3 linked regions of the Homo sapiens genome follow. The protein of the gene in region 2 purifies or fractionates together with the protein of the main gene of each other region. This does not show direct contact. Each region holds a gene or a part of one and is shown on either strand. Other genes may lie near its edges.

Region 1 (3,500 bases), on a different chromosome or scaffold from region 2:
GTCATATAATTTACCCCTCACTACAGGGAACACATCCAGCCACTGAAATGGTTGTACATGTTGACATTTCCACCACATACTTGTACTCTGGGTACTTTTATTTCCTTTAAGAAAAGCAACTATTTCTGAGAGCTGCTTACATTATAAAGTTATATTTAATTTACAAATGAAAATTTTTCTGAAAGTTACAATTCAACATGCTTAAAGCTGCAAAGAGATTTTTAATCAAGTTAAAACAGCTTTCCTATGACTTGAGAGTAGCAAATGTTTAAGCATCATGCAGATGAGCTGGAAAGCGGATAATGTGCCTTTGCATGGCACACGGAAAGCATGCAGGGACCCTGGTTTTTAAAATCAGTGGCTAACAAGTACTTGCAATTTGTTGCCTGTGGCTCAGTTACACCTTTGGCATCTAGAATGGTTATACTGCTTTACATTTAGTAGCTTCCAACATTTCTGAATTATCAAAGTTATAAAAAGCTATCAAAACTAGAGATTCTTATAGATGAAGTAAATCCTCATAAGGGAAGATACTTAGCTACTGAGGCTTGAGCAGATTAAAACATCTGTCATCCTTTAACTCTCTTCCTCTTGCTCAAACACTATTAGCCCTTAGATTCACAAAGTTACAGAAAGTTTGGTGGAAAATATTAAGATATAGCCACCTTGTGATTTTGTACTAAGAATGAATAAATGATTTACTGTAAATGTAGTTTTTGCCTGTAATCCCAGCACTTTGGGAGGCTGAGGTGGATGGACCACCTGAGGTCAGGAGTTTGAGACCAGCCGGACCAATCTGGTGAAACCCCGTCTCTACTAAAAATACAAAAATTAGCAGAGTGTGGTGGCATGCAACTGTAGTCCCAGCTACTCAGGAGGCTGAGACAGGAGAATTGCTTGAACCTGGGAGGTGGAAGTTGCTGTGAGCCAAGATTGCGCCACTTCACTCCAGCCTGGGCGACAGAGCGAGACTCCATCTCAAAAAAAAAAAAAAAAAAAAATGTAGTTTTTGCAACAGTGATATTAGAAATTAAAAATATTTTTGCAGTTTTTGAAGGTCTATTTTGCACTATAAATATAGCCATGTTATAACTTTTTTTTCCTAATCAGGAATCTTGAAAATATAATACTTCCAAATACCACCTAGGGAAGTTTAATGCATCCCTACTAACGAAGCTCCCAGTTGGCCGATTATAGGATAATGTCAACTGGGTGTATTCTAAACTTGAAGTAAATGCTAATATTCTTTTTCCATCACAGATTTTCTAAAATGTAGTAATTTGGGCTTTAGCATCCATAAATCAGAATTTTAGTCTATGTAGCAACCAAATACCAAAATACATATACCTAATCTTAGGCAAGTGCTTTTGTGACTTTTAATCAACTCATTAAATTTTTAAAAAGGAAAAAAGAAGGGATGAAGCTGAAGTTTAAATTTTTAATAAAACAAATAATTTTATCTTGCACTGGGCACCAAGACACAGAAATATTACCATTAGGTTGCAAGATAAACATTTCCCACTTAAAAAATATCATGCACAGCACACAACAACCCCATTTAGTGACATGCCATGCCAGAAATACAGTAAGTTATACAAAGAACAAACAACACGCACAGATTTTTTACTGTGAACCACACAACTTACCCATTCTCACCATAAATCTTTTGAAAGAGTCTAAGAAACCAGAAAACCAAAAATTAAAAAGTCATTTTTCCCAGTCATATTAGTTTCTAAACGTTCAATGTCTTCCACTTAAGAATCTAACTGGAGACGGACAAATCTCAAAAGGTCACTTCTTCCATCACATTCTTGATCATGTCTCAAGTTCTCATCAATTTCCTATCTCAGGAAATTCAGATTAAGCAAAATGAAGAATTTCCTCAATTTACTCTGAGCTAACAAATCCATATGAAAAGGCTTCCCATTGTCAGGAACTGTTAAGTTAGATTTGGATCCTCTAATTTTATTCAACCTAATCAGATTTGTCCATCTCTAAGTTCCACAAACTGAACATTCATCAAAAAGGCAAGTTGCATAATACAAACTATCAAAATGGCCATGATTACATACACATAAAATTCAGCAGACAACAAATACCATTCATGCATTTTAACATCAACGTTTACTCTGAACTTCATAAATAAAAATAAGTTACAAATGATAGTCCAAGAAACCTAGGCCAAAACCAAAAATTAAGTTAAATGAAATTTGCAATGCCATATTTTAAGGGAAAATTTCACCCCCCCAAAAAAATCAGACACTCTAAAATGTGAGCAACACATAAAACCAAACTATAACCAGACTGTTACAAAAATGCCTGAACATGAGAAGTCCAGAAACTTCATATTGGTGGATAGTACCACAGTACTGCTTAAGTCAAAGGCAAGGTTTATGTATATACAGTCTTAAACAGGCCTAAATAAGTTATTTAGAGATATGCAAATATGGAATTGCACTTTTTGTACAAAACGACTGAGGGTTTTTCAAAGCAAATTAAATTTTACGGGATGCTTCAAAATGGCACGCGACATGCAGAGTTGAGCAACACGATGAGCTGCTTTCTCGCATGAGAAAAGTTACACAAGACCATCCATTACAAGCAAAATCCTTGCAGAAACACACTCTGACCTCTCCACCATCAGCCTTTTCTTGTGCCTAAGTCTGCTGGCCTCCCGGATGGCCTCCCATCTCTTCAAGTCAGCCTCACTGCAGGGGCCAGGGGTGAAACTGATGGGAGGCACGGTAGTTCCCAGTTTCCAGGACTGAATCTTACGTGTCAGCATGTCATCTTTCTTCTGCCGATATGAAGGAACTAATATTCTACAGCTATTACTTTTTTCTTTGGATGGGCATGTCCTTTCAAGTACACAGAGAAATTTTGCTTGAATTTCTGGAGGAAGAGTCCAGGGTTCGGGAAAAGGGACTGGGTGGTATCTATCTGGGGCCCCAGACAGCGGCACTTCTTTCTTCTGTGCTGGAATTCGGCGAACAATCATATCATCTTTTTCCAAATCCGGAAGTACAAGTTCACCTTCTCTACACTGTAAAATTATATCTCGCTCTACAGAATCATCTTGCTCAGAGAACTTTCTAAAGTCTTCAAAAGCTCGGAGAACATATGGATTTGCATGGAAAGCCCCAGTCTTTCTGACAAAGAAATCATCATTCTCTAAGTCAGGATCCAGGGCTGCCATCTCGAGGTCATCTCTTCTATAGCCTGGTGCATAAGAGAGATTCTTCCTGCGGGTTATGAGCCTTGGGCCAGAAGTGGGATCAATTTTGGTATGTGTTTCAGAAGACAAGATGTCATCAGAGTATGTTTGGAGGGCCTGAAGCAGTAAAAACTGACTGATGCACAGAGAGGAAAAAGGAAAGAGAATCTTATTAAGCTTAGGGAGAAAAGGTAATTAGCAGATCGACTAGCCAAAGGTGATTAGCAGACCAACTAGCCAGTTACTGAGGGTAAATCATTTTAGAGGACCATTGTGGGGACTCTTG
Region 2 (3,727 bases):
ACGGTCCGTGGGCTGAGGTGACAGGCAGAGCAGTGGGGCCCGCACGGTCCGTGGGCTGAGGTGACAGGCAGAGCAGTGGGGTCCACATAGTCTGTGGAGTCAAGTTGCCGACAGGGTCCAAGATCCAAGAACTCTGCCCTGCAACTACAGACCGAGAGGAAGACAAACGCCCAGGAGGGAGAATCCAGGCCTCGCTGACCGTATCGGAGCAAAGGGAACACCTGGGCACAGCTGCCTGAGCAAGGACAAGATGCATCTGACTGCCCTGGCCAGCACAGGGCATGCCCATCCACAGAAGACAGAGTCTGACCCGGGGCACACACACAAGAGACAGGCGGGCCAACGGTGCAGACCCAGACCCACAGGCGGGCTCTCAGCTGGGACAACGGTGGCCGTGCGATGCGGGGTGGGGGTGGGGGGCATCCGACTGAAAAAAGTGTGTCTCGATCCCTGCCTCAGGCCTCACCCCAGCTGGAGGCAGCCATTCATGTCAAAGGTAAAACGATGCTTGTAGAGAACATTTTTTTTTTAAATCTGGGAGCAGCAAAGGTTTGTTCAACAGGACCCAAAGTCCTAACCACAAAACACTGATAATTTGGATTATGTTAAAATTAAGAGCTTCTGTTCATCCAAAAATACCACTGAAGGAGTGGAAAGGTGACGTGCAGATGAGAGTGGCTATCCAGGATCACACAGCCGACAAAGGACTCACAGCCAGAATCTATATTTTAAACACTCCTAGCAAGCATTGAAAGAAATTCAACCTAAATGAAAAAACAGACATAAGACTTGGGCATTTTTCTTCTTTCTGTTTCTATTTTTTTTCTTTTTTTTTGGAGACAGAGTCCCACTCTGTTGCCCAGGCTGGTGTGCAGTGGTGCGATCTCAGCTCACTGCAACCTCCGCCTCCCGGGTTCAAGTGCTTCTCCTGCCTCAGTCTCCCGAGTAGCTGGGAATACAGGTGCCCGCCACCACACCTGGCTAATTTTTTTTTGTATTTTTAGTAGAGATGGGGTTTCACCAAGTTAGCCAGGCTGGTCTCGAACTCTTGACCTCTGGTGATCCATCCGCCTCGGCCTCTGAAAGTGCTGGGATTGCAGACGTGAGCCACCAGGCCCGGCCGACTTGGGCATTTTTCCAAAGAGGAATTTCGCATAGACGTATGAAAAGGTGCTCAGTCATCAGAGAAATGCAAAGGCAAACTACACACCACAGAAGGACAGAGACAGCCCCGTGCTGAGAGGGAAGATGATGCAGCCGGGGCCTCCAGCTTTGCTGGTGGGAGCACCAAGTGAAAAATGCTTTGCGAGAATCTACTACAGGGAAACCTGTGCAGACATTTGCGTGCCTGATACCCAGCGATTCACACGCATAGGGACCTTTCAACAGAAATGCAAAGGATGTGTACTAGGAATGTTCATGGCAGAACAAACCATAATAGTCAGAAACCTGAAACCACCCAAATGCCCGTCACCCGCAGGATGGAGAATAAATCACGGTAGAGTCACAAAAGGGATGTCACCACCATGAGAATTAACACCCCACAGCCTCACACAACATGGGAGAGTCTCTTTCACATAACGGGGGCCAGAGACACAGTCACAGAAGTGCACATTGGCCAGGCGCAGTGGCTCACGCCTGTAATTCCAGCACTTTGGGAGGCCGAGGCGGGCAGATCACCTTAGGCCCGGAGTTCCAGACCATCCTGGCTAACAAAGTGAAACCCCGTCTCTACTAAAAATACAAAAATTAGCCAGGCGTGGTGGCGCACACCTGTAGTCCCAGCTACTCAGGAGGCTGAGACAGGAAAATCGCTTGAACCTGGGAGGCAGAGGTTGCAGTGAGCTGAGATCGTGCCACTGCACTCCAGCCTGGGCAACAGAGCGAGACTCCATCTCAAAAAAAAAAAAAAAAAAAAGGAAAACTCCAAAACTAAGAGAAAATTAGGAGACAAAAATAACATCTTTACTGAACTAATCAATAAGTTAGAAACAGCTAGAACAGTTTACTGAAATCAAAATTACCAACAAATAGGAAAGGCATAAGATAATCAGAAAAATTCAGGCCGCGCACTGTGGCTCACACCTGTAATCCCAGCACTTTGGGAGGCTGAGCTAAGCAGATCACCTGAGGTTAGGGGTTCGAGACCACCCTGGCCAACATGGAAACCCCGTCTCTACTAAAAATACAAAAACAAATTGGCCCAGTGTGGTGGCAGGCACCTGTAATCCCAGCTACCTGGGAGGTTGAAGCAGGCGAATCACTTGAACCTGGGAGGTGGAGGTTGCAGTGAGGTGAGATCACACCACTGCACTCCAACCTGGGCAACAGATTGAGACTACATCTAAGAAAAAAAAAATACATACACACACACATACACACACACACCTGGAAACTCAAAGAGTACGTTCATACTAAAAGTTTAACACAAACATTCAACTCTGAGACATGGTCTGGTTAAGCAGAAGAACTATGAGACAAAAAGAAAGAATTCCTCAGAAATTCATGAAGGGAAGGACAAGCCTCCACATGGGGAAAAATCAGCTGACCTCAGGCTTCCCCACAGCACATGTGAGCCAGGGGATGGTGGAATGACAGCTGCAAAGTGTTGGGGAAGAAAATAAATCTAAGAGTATTATACCCAGCCAAGATATCTCTACATTGTTCAAAGATAAAGACCATGGGCAGACATTCTCAGACACAAAAAAACACTCAGGAAATACTCGAGTCCTTCTGAAAAAACGACTGATAATGAAATCTAGGTGATTAAGAGGGACAGCACAATGAACAGAGACATAAATGGTAAAAGGACTTTGGTGAGCACTGACTGTATTTAAATGTTGAATTGATACTAAATCATTGCGGGCACTACAGCCACAATACAGAAGCAAGGGCTATAAACCTGGACAATATAAAAATAACAGCCTGGGCTACAAAACTCAGGAGGAATTGGGTGGAGGGAAATGGAGTGTGGAGTTACGAACGCCCTCATCTTTCTTTCTTTCTTTCTTTCTTTTTTTTTTTTCGAGACAAAATCTCACTCTGTCGCTGGGCTGGAGTGCAATGGTGTGATCTCAGCTCACTTCACCCTCCACCTCCTGGGTTCCAGCGATTCTCCTGCCTCAGCCTCCCAAGTAGCTGGGATTACAGGCACGCGGCACCACGCCCAGCTAATTTTTGTATTTTTAGTAGAGATAGGGTTTCACCATGTTGACCAGGCTGGTCTCAAACTCCTGACCTCATGACCCGCCCACCTTGGCCTCCCCAAGTGCTGGGATTACAGCTGTGAGCCACTGCGCCCGGCTGCCCTCACCTTTCAATAACAAGCACCTATAGTGTTTCTCAGCGAAACATGTCATTAAAAAAAAAAAAAAACATGGCCAGGTGCTGTGGCTCAGGCCTATAATCTCAGCATTTGAGGAGGCCAAAAAAGGAGGATGGCTTGAACCCAGGAGGGTCAAGGCTGCAGTGATCTGCAATCACACCACTGCACTCCAGCCTGGGCGGCAGAGAAGACCCTGTCTCTGAAAAAATAAAAAACAAAACATAATGATCTCAACTTCTTACTATTTTTCAGAATATCTTTTCTTAACTCTAAAACAAATATTTGGTAAATCAAAAACCTGCAAGGGTACACCCGTGATATCAGTTTTTTCTACAGCAGCTCAGGCCAAGTAGACAATAAAGCTCTTGATGGGATTTTTTTTTTAAGACAGAATTTCGCTCT
Region 3 (3,727 bases), on a different chromosome or scaffold from region 2:
CAGCCAGTAGAATGGAAGTGGTGTCTTGCTACTTTTCCCTAGCTTTTTCAAGAGTTAAATAAGCCACCTGTCAAACATAATTTCTGCATATTTGCTTTCCTTAGCCTATTTCCCTTTTCCACTGACTTTAATGAAGTCTTTCAGATTCTCTTAAACACAGTGAAGGATTCAAAGGCAGAGCCACACTTCCTTTCCATCCTGCAGCACTTACTCTTGGTCCGAAATGACTATGAGGCCAGGTAAGATGCTGTGCTTATGAGAAGTTTTGAATTTGAGCCTAAGTGGAGAGAGTGAATTCCTTAAATTCAAAGATTGTTCTGTAAAAGGAAAATGTAAAGACAAAGACCCAAGATTAGGGTTCATTAGTCACCGATATAAAGGAAGTTGTCTTATTTCTTTAATCCAACTCAAAGGCATCCCTATGGCAGAGGTCAGAGTGTATAAGGTGAAATGCCGTTCTGTTTTTGGAGGGGAGTAGGTAAATAGGATGAAGATGTTAGCAAACAGAAGTGGCAATTTAAAATTCTTTCTAGTTTCCTGGAAGTATAGATTTAGCAATAGCACTATCCATCACAGGAAGGATCAAACGCAAATTTTTAGATGGGAAAGTATTGGCACTAGGAGCGGATGGCAAGAAGTTTTGATTATTTGAAGTAGATAGGGTAGGGTAGCTGATGTGGAAAAAGGAGTTTTCTTAGCATGGCAGCAATACTTGTGTTAACTTTACAAAAGTTTTTCCAGGTCTCTCAGTTGTCAGAGCAATTACGTTTTCTTGGTCCTGAATACTTCTGAAAATTATATTTTGATTTTCCTTTGATGACCCTGTTTTTATTCTCTTGTAGACCTCAGTACTATAAGTTGATTGAAGAATGTATTTCCCAGATAGTTCTGCACAAGAACGGGGCTGATCCTGACTTCAAGTGCCGGCACCTCCAGATTGAGATTGAGGGATTAATTGGTAAGCATACTCTTCTATCTGGCTCCTCCAAGTATTGCTTCTTCCTTTCATTTTGCATCTTGTTTCAGTGAAAATGTCAGAGAAGATACCTTTCCAGTCCCCAGATAGTTCTATTTTTGTCCTTTCTTAGGTCATAACCAGCATCTTTGCTAGGAATCTATAGGTCTTTAGTTTATTTTTAGATAAAACACACACCAGCACCTTTTGCAGGAACTCCTGGTGGTCTCAGAGAGTCAAAAATATCACTCATAGGCATTCTTCTTGCCACCCAGCATGGTGGCCTTACCGCACACTCAGATTACATGTTGAACTTAACTGAAAGTTCCATTTCTTTGTCTAGTGCAGAACATTAAGAAAGATAATAAAAATGATCAAAAAGACTGTTCTTTGGAAGGGTGTAGTGTGAAAGAAATAGAACAAGAGAATTAGGAGCTTTACTTACTGACTCTTCTTCTTTTCAGATCAAATGATTGATAAGACAAAGGTGGAGAAATCTGAAGCCAAAGCTGCAGAGCTGGAAAAGAAGGTGCATATGAGAGACCAAAGACATGTGTTTGAGTATATCTTTCTTTGAGAATTATTATTTTCCTGATCTATGAGACAGTTTTCCTCTGTGGTATTTTGGAAGCGTTTAGCACCCAATAGTGTAGTTCCCAGGGGAAACCTTTCCAGTATAGGGTAGTCATTGGAGAAAGTGATATGGATGTCTTCATAGGGAGCTCTAGTGGTGGACTTTCAGTTCTTGGGCTACTGGGCAGGAAAAGAAAGACAGATGATACTCATGTAATAGTAATGGCACTCTCAGGTTTGCTTGGCATTTTAGGCCTCTTACCCCTAGAACAATAGGAACTGGGGTCCTTAGAGCAATAGAACTAGAGGATGTCTGAGTTCTCTTTTTCTCTTCAGTTTTTAAGAACGTTTATTGTGGTTAATAGGTTTTTGATCCTAGAGAATATTGGGATTGTACTACCATGGTCGTCCTCGTTAAATACCTTTAAAATCTTATTTTTTTTAACTATAAAAATAGGGAATCTGTGGAAATGAACTGATTCCCCTCTCCTTTAACCTTGTTTTATTTTCATTTTTATTTTTATTTGTTTTTTTTTTGAGACGGAGTCTCACTCTGTCATCCAGGCTGGAGTGCAGTGGCGCGATCTCGGCTCACTGCAACCTCTGTCTCCTGGGTTCAAGCAGTTCTCCTGCCTCAGCCTCCCAAGTAGCTGGGATTACAGGTGCCCACCACCATGCCCGGCTAATTTTTGTATTTTTGGTAGAGGCTAGGGTTCACCATGTTGGACAGGTTGGTCTCGAACTTCTGACCTCAGGTGATCCACCTGCCTCGGCCTCCCGAAGTGCTGGGATTACAGGTGTGAGCCACTCCGCCCAGCCAAACCTTGATTTTAAGGTCAGAATCATGGTGCTTTTTTCCCCCGAGCATGGCCTGGATTTATGAGCTCTGTAAATCAAGTACTGGCCCAGAACAGGAGGCAGTGGGGGGATTCCAGCACCCCCAGGCAAAAGAGGAGGTAGGGAGAATTATGGGTAATAATACTTGTGCTTCTTACTGAGATGGAGAGCTTGCTGGGAGCCTGATTCGTTTTTTCTCTAGTTGGACTCAGAGTTAACAGCCCGACATGAGCTACAGGTGGAAATGAAAAAGATGGAAAGTGACTTTGAGCAGAAGCTTCAAGATCTTCAGGGAGAAAAAGATGCACTGCATTCTGAAAAGCAGCAAATTGCCACAGAGAAACAGGACCTGGAAGCAGAGGTGTCCCAGCTCACAGGAGAGGTAATGCCTGAGCAGGGAAGGCAGAATGACCTGTAACCTCAGGATGCACATGGCTTGGAACAGGAGTCAGTCATCTCGCTCCTAGGGAGGGTTCAGCTACTAATAGGTAATCTAGTTACATGGTGCATATTTTAAAAATAATATACTGGTTTTTGGTTTGTGTTGGGGGTAAGTAATACATAAGACAGAAAATCTGGAAAATACAGAAAAACATTAAGAATAAAGTAAGTTTCATTACCACCCAGAAATAAAAGTAATAAGTCTCCTAATAAATTAGGAATAAAAACTAAACTGTTAAAAATTGACTAATTTCCTGTTATTTTAGTCACCTCTGCACAGATTTATCCTTACACACTCTCTCTGCAGTAGTAAATACTTAAATGATCTTTGATGTCTGATAACTTGATTACTTATGTGGTTATATAATCATCTGTGTAGCACATATATTAGTTATATAACTAGAACATTTAATTTACTTGACCTTTACATTTTCTAATCAAGGGAGGGTTTAACATAAAGGTTGAAATTGTCTTCTTAATACAAAGCATGCTGAACTAAGAACATGAAAACCTGAATTCTAGTTTTGGCTCTGCTGCCAAGCCGTGTGACTTTAGGTGATCATGTCATCTCTCTGACTCCTCTCAGTTCCTCCATTTGTAACATGAGAAGTTTGGATTAAGTAGTTTATTAGGTTCCTTCCAGTCCCAGTAGTCCCTGAAGTGGGGTGAGAAGTACTCACATTGATGTTATTTCTGTAGGTTGCCAAGCTGACAAAGGAACTGGAAGATGCCAAGAAAGAAATGGCTTCCCTCTCTGCGGCAGCTATTACTGTACCTCCTTCTGTTCCTAGTCGTGCTCCTGTTCCCCCTGCCCCTCCTTTACCTGGTGACTCTGGCACTATTATTCCACCACCACCTGCTCCTGGGGATAGTACCACTCCTCCTCCTCCTCCTCCTCCTCCTCCTCCTCCACCTCCTTTG

Evidence for each region.
Region 1: the proteins of RAB40B (region 2) and LMO7 purify together in Homo sapiens (affinity purification with mass spectrometry, with the first as the bait; one study listed by BioGRID). This does not show direct contact.
Region 3: the proteins of RAB40B (region 2) and DIAPH1 purify together in Homo sapiens (affinity purification with mass spectrometry, with the first as the bait; one study listed by BioGRID). This does not show direct contact.

What each region holds. Positions count from the first base shown.
Region 1 is NC_000013.11:75,807,330-75,810,829, reverse strand, and holds part of LMO7 (LIM domain only protein 7), read right to left. Parts: intron 3,351-3,500; coding exon 2,631-3,350; intron 1,677-2,630; coding exon 1,647-1,676; intron 1-1,646.
Region 2 is NC_000017.11:82,692,185-82,695,911, forward strand, and holds part of RAB40B (ras-related protein Rab-40B), read right to left. Parts: intron 1-3,727. UniProt on the Homo sapiens protein: RAB40B small GTPase acts as substrate-recognition components of the ECS(RAB40B) E3 ubiquitin ligase complex which mediates the ubiquitination of target proteins.
Region 3 is NC_000005.10:141,573,987-141,577,713, reverse strand, and holds part of DIAPH1 (protein diaphanous homolog 1), read left to right. Parts: intron 1-122; coding exon 123-239; intron 240-842; coding exon 843-958; intron 959-1,419; coding exon 1,420-1,484; intron 1,485-2,567; coding exon 2,568-2,747; intron 2,748-3,505; coding exon 3,506-3,727. UniProt on the Homo sapiens protein: Actin nucleation and elongation factor required for the assembly of F-actin structures, such as actin cables and stress fibers. Binds to the barbed end of the actin filament and slows down actin polymerization and depolymerization.